2 separate regions of the Homo sapiens genome follow, and region 2 is linked to region 1. Evidence: fine-mapped expression QTL. Tissue or cell type: whole blood. Region 1 holds a variant in brackets; the other region holds the start of a gene. All regions are shown on one strand. Distances are between the middles of the regions.

What was found. PIP is the estimated chance that this variant, and not a neighbour inherited with it, causes the effect.
Region 2: MLST8 starts here. The variant in region 1 is fine-mapped to the expression of MLST8 in whole blood (INTERVAL, PIP above 0.99).

Annotation. Positions count from the first base shown.
Region 1 is chr16:2,162,544-2,165,295 of GRCh38, reverse strand. TRAF7 (TNF receptor associated factor 7) reads right to left here. Exons shown (of 21, transcript NM_032271.3): 2 at 1,295-1,413. The coding sequence starts at 1,375. Among named protein-coding and RNA genes, the nearest start is that of TRAF7, 8.1 kb to the right of the region's middle. RefSeq lists enhancers at 1-141, 142-915, 1,325-1,824, 1,825-2,326. The variant C/AC (reference allele first, on the strand shown) is at 1,537.
Region 2 is chr16:2,204,192-2,206,817 of GRCh38, reverse strand. MLST8 (MTOR associated protein MLST8) reads right to left here and starts at 1,364. Exons shown (of 9, transcript NM_022372.6): 1 at 1,306-1,364; 2 at 604-787; 3 at 409-460; 4 at 159-321. The coding sequence starts at 732. RefSeq lists enhancers at 1-709, 1,549-2,389 and a silencer at 807-1,456.

The DNA of each region.
Region 1 (2,752 bases):
AGGCCGCGCCACGCAGCACTAACACGCTTAACCATGCGACCAGGCCGCGCCACGTAGCACTAACACGCTTAACCATGCGACCAGGCCAGGCCATGCAGCACTCACACGCTTAACCATGCGACCAGGCCAGGCCACGCAGCACTCACACGCTTCAGCATGCGACCAGGCCAGGCCACGCAGCACTCACACGCTTAACCATGCGACCAGGCCAGGCCATGCAGCACTCACACGCTTCAGCATGCGACCAGGCCAGGCCATGCAGCACTCACACGCTTAACCATGCGACCAGGCCAGGCCACGCAGCACTCACACGCTTAACCATGCGACCAGGCTGCGCCACACAGCACTCACACGCTTAACCATGCGACCAGGCCAGGCCACGCAGCACTAACACGCTTAACCATGCGACCAGGCCAGGCCACGCAGCACTCACACGCTTAACCATGCGACCAGGCTGCGCCACACAGCACTCACACGCTTAACCATGCGACCAGGCCAGGCCACGCAGCACTAACACGCTTAACCATGCGACCAGGCCAGGCCACGCAGCACTCACACGCTTAACCATGCGACCAGGCCGCGCCACGCAGCACTCACACGCTTAACCATGCAACCAGGCCGCGCCACACAGCACTCACACGCTTAACCATGCGACCAGGCCGCGCCACGCAGCACTAACACGCTTAACCATGCGACCAGGCCGCGCCACGTAGCACTAACATGCTTAACCATGCGACCAGGCCAGGCCACGCAGCACTCACACGCTTAACCATGCGACCAGGCCAGGCCACGTAGCACTCACACGCTTAACCATGCGACCAGGCCAGGCCACGCAGCACTAACACGCTTAACCATGCGACCAGGCCAGGCCACGCAGCACTCACACGCTTAACCATGCGACCAGGCCGCACCACGCAGCACTAACACGCTTAACCATGCAACCAGGCCGCGCCACGCAGCACTAACACGCTTTACCATGCGACCAGGCCAGGTCACGCAGCACTCACACGCTTAACCATGCGACCAGGCCGCGCCACGCAGCACTCACACGCTTAACCATGCAACCAGGCCGCGCCACACAGCACTAACACGCCCCAACCACACACGCACGCGTGCGCGCGCGCGCGCGCGCGCGCACACACACACACACACACACCACACCCCCCCCCACCGAGCTCCCCTGAGACCCCAGCTCGGGACGGGACTGCGCTGGGAGCTCTGCAGGCAACACCAGATCCCTGGGGCATGCTGGGGGTCCTGGGGATGTTGGGCTTGCAGAGGGGCACACCCTTACCCCTGTGGTGACGTCTGGGGTGGGAAGATTGCTGGGCCCCCCGGAGAAGCGGTTGTAGCGGGCACTCTTGCCTGAGCTCATGCTCTAGAGAGGCATCTACGGTCCTTGGGAAGCACCTCCTGTGGGTGGAGCACAAATGAGGGGCTTGAGAGATGGAGCCCAGGCCCCTGTGAGTCAGACGGGCTGCTGCAAGTGTGCAGACCTGCTGTGGGGCACCGTGGGGCCGCCGCAGCAGCCTTCCA[C/AC]CACCAGCCCCGGCTCAGGCAGGCCTCTAGGAGGCAAAGGTCCTTCACCCCGATCCCAGGTATGCAGAGGCCCGGGCAGGCAGGCGGCTCTGCGTCACCGTCCCTCAAGGCTTAGCCTTTCTGAGCTCCCGAAGAGCCCATCCAGCTCTTCCCCGAGGTGGAGGGACCCCTGCCTGGCTCCCTCTACTCCTCTGGGTCCTGAGTCACAGCCAGTCACCTCCAGGCTGAATGTCCCTGGGGCCAAGGCTGGGCCTTGGTGGGTAGGCCCAGGGTGTGGCCCACGTGGCGGGACGCAGTCACACAGGGACCAGCCAAGGCACGACGAATGTGTTTCCTGCCACGACAGGTGCGGTCAGGACCCAGCCAGCACCAGGCTGCAGCGGGGAGACACCAGCCACACCCCAGAGAAAGAACCTGCAGGGTGAGTCACCGGAGCCCAACTCCACACAAACCGCACTGCACGGAAAAAAGCACAGGAGAGAGATGAGCCCGCCCCTGGAACCCGTGCAGGTCACCCACACTCCCAGCCACGCCACAGGGGCTCAGGGGCTGGTGGGTGGGGGGGCAGGGAGAAGGCATGCGGGAATCACCCTCCCCAGAAGAGAGGGGCTGGTGGGCCTGGGGGAGACGTGGCCCCTCCGTGGGTGCTGGGAGTGCTGGCCAGGCCCAGGGACACCAGTAGGGGAAGGTAAACATTAGAGAGAAAAAGAGACCCAGCCAACAGGTCACACCCAGGACAGAGCCCGGGGAAGGGGCTGTCCATGCTGGATGACGCCCACTCTCCCCCCGTGAGGCACCAGGCTCTGTCAGCAGGCGCCCCTCCTCCCGAGCAGGTCCCACTTTCAGGACTTGGGCAGCCTGGAAGCCAGGAGCCTGGCAGAATGCAGCTGGGACAGCCCTGTCTCCTGCTGGCAGCGGATAGCGCAGCCGAGCCCCGGCTTGAAGCTGAGCTCCCTGTGGGGAGGAAGGCCACGTGCCCAGGACTCCTGCCCCGGGCCCACCTGCACTGTCCACCTCGAGGCCCATGCGCAGCACCCCATGAGGACACACCATGGGCTCAGCTCCCAAGGCAGGAGCCCTCAGAACAAGCTTGCTCTGGGGGCGGTGCAGCAGCAGGGAGCCCACTCCTGCGGCCCTGCTCTCACCCTGGGGAAGCCGGGCTGCAAACCAAGGCCCCAGGGGCCTGAGAGGAGCAGGACAGTCCCAGTCCCAGGCC
Region 2 (2,626 bases), 42 kb before region 1:
TCTGATGCAATTCACTCTCCTCCTGTCCTCACTTCTCTCAGTAAGTCGCCCACAGGAAGCTCCCTGTCTCAGCCTCTGCTTGAAGAGAACCCAACCTAAAACGGTCTCCCAGAGCAGCCCACCCCAGCCCCGGGCAGCACGCCCCCTCCCCACCGCACCTGAGGTCCCAGATCCTGGCTGTGCAGTCCTCGCCGCCCGTGTACATCCAGCGGCCGTCTTCGTGGAAGCCCACAGACGCGATGTTCTTGTTGACGCCGTCGTAGCTGATGATGGGGTTAGGGTTATTGGAGTTGAGATCATACATGCGGATGTGCTGGTAACCTAGGGACACAGGCTGAACTGAAGCTTGGCTGTGCTGAGGTCGACCCACCAGAGCTCAGGAGTTTAGAGATCAAGGATCACAGATACCTGCAGCAGCAATCATGCTGCGGTCCGGTGTGACCTCCAAGGCATTCACCTGCTGGGACTGTTAAGGAGGATGACGGGAAGGTAGCCCTGAGGCCAGGGCCCCCCAGGCCTCCACCATCTGGCCTTCACACAGGCTGTGGTCCCCACACGAGGCATCCCCCCAGCGCCGCCCTGCCCGCCCCGGGTGGAGGATACGGAGTCCTGGTGCTGCACCGTCCGGGTGCAGATGCCGCTGTGGGCCTGCCAGAAGCGCACGGTGTGGTCGTAGCCTGCAGTGGCCAGGATGACCGGGTCACTGCCCACCGTGCCTGGGGAGGTGTTCATGGTGTGGCCTGCACGGGCCCTAGAGCTGAACGGCAGGGGTCAAAGGTCAGAGCATCTGCAGAGAAGGATGTGAAGTACTTAGAAGACACTCTCTGTGCTAAGTAGATTATAGACCCACAAGGCGCTGCCGAATGGCGCTTATCATTCCCATTTTAGAGTTGGGACAAGAAGCGCAGGTAGGTTCAGGGACACGCGTCACACGCGTGATACCTGGCTCCGGGGCTCCAGGGCGCGTGCTCCATCCCCGCCCCACGCACACGGCGGGGGCGCCGTCCCCCCCCCACCTCCGCAGCCGGCAGGGGGGAGTCACGCGCGGGCGCCACTCTGCCGCAGGGGCGGGCTGCGCGTGCGCAAGGCGGCGGATGGGCCGGGGAAAGCCGAGCGCTGCGGCTGCGCATGCGTAGCAGGCCAGCGGCAGGCCCTGATGGGAAAGGGCGCAGTCTGGCTGGACCCCCGAGCTCCCCTTTCCTCCGGTGACCGCCCTTGCTCCGTCCTGCTGGCCGGCTTCCCCTGGCCGTGCTCTCCCAGCCACCCAGCAGCCGGTTCCCGGCCCCTGGCTCGCGGCCTCCGTACCTTACGGGCGGCTCCGCACTCCGCCGTGTCCAGGACGGCGAGGGGAGCCGGAGCGAGTCGATCGAGGCCGAGCGTAGAGTTATCGATGGCTCCCTAGGGCGAGACCATGGCGCGGGCGGGGGTGGGTGGGACGAGACCAAAGTTCTGGGGCGGGGGGTTCCCGCCGGGAGGAACTCGGAGCGGTCCCCGTGCGCGGCCGCGGGCCCGGCGCGAGGTGGAAGGAAGCTGCGGCTTTCTCTCCGGCCTCCTGCCCACTGGCACCTGCCCTTCTGACACGGCTGTCCGTTTCCCGGGCTGTCGGGTCGCGCTGTTCCGGTGCCCTCCCTGACCCACTACTGCGCCACGCTGGGCTAGGATTGGCTGAAAATTACAGGACTTGAATTCAGACAAGTAACGAATAATTTTTTTTTTAGTGTAAGTATATCCAGGACATTGCATGGGAAATACTTATGCTAAAAAAATTTTATTGGGTATCCTGTAGTTTTACTTGCTAGATCTGGCACCCCAGCCCCAGCCTGACCCTCAGGACATCCCACTGAGCCCAGGGTCCCCCTCAAAACCACAGGCCCTCATTCCAGCTCTGTGAGCTCCACGCCGGTGCCCTCACCCTTGAGACAGGCTGTCGCATGGTTTTTTCCTGCTGCTCTTACAGACCTGGCTGCACCCCTTCCTCTGGCCGCAGAGGGGGTGCATCTTGTCCCTTGACCAGGCCATAGTTCCCATGGAGCCTTCCTTCCTATACCTTCACCTCCTCTCCTTCCTGCCGGTTAGCCTTTAAAAAAACACCATAAAACAATCCCAAATTATCTTCTTCAAAGAGCGGTCCTCACCATTTTTCTAGTTCCACGTCCTCACCTCCCACTCATTCCGCAACCCCAGTCATCTGCCTTTTACCCCCAGCTCTCTAGCTCTCCAGTGGAAATTCCTCAAGGTCACTGACAATCTCACTTTGCTAAATCCAGTGGATACTTTTCCTTCTTCCCACCTTTTTTTTTTTTTTCTCTCGAGACAGAGTCTCGCTTTCTCGCCCAGGCTGGAGTGCAGTGGTGCAATCTCGACTCACTGCAAAACCTCTGCCTCCCAGGTTCAAGCGATTTTCCTGCCTCAGCCTCCCGAGTAGCTGGGATTACAGGCACGCACCACCACACCTGGCTGATTTTTGTATTTTTAGTGGAGACGGGATTTCACCATGTTCGCAAGGCTGGTCTCAAACTCCTGACCTCAAGTGATCCGCCTACCTCAGCCTCCCAAAGTGCTGGGATTACAGGCGTGAGCCACTGCGCCCGGCCTCTTCCCACTTCTTCTTTCTTTTTTTTTTTTT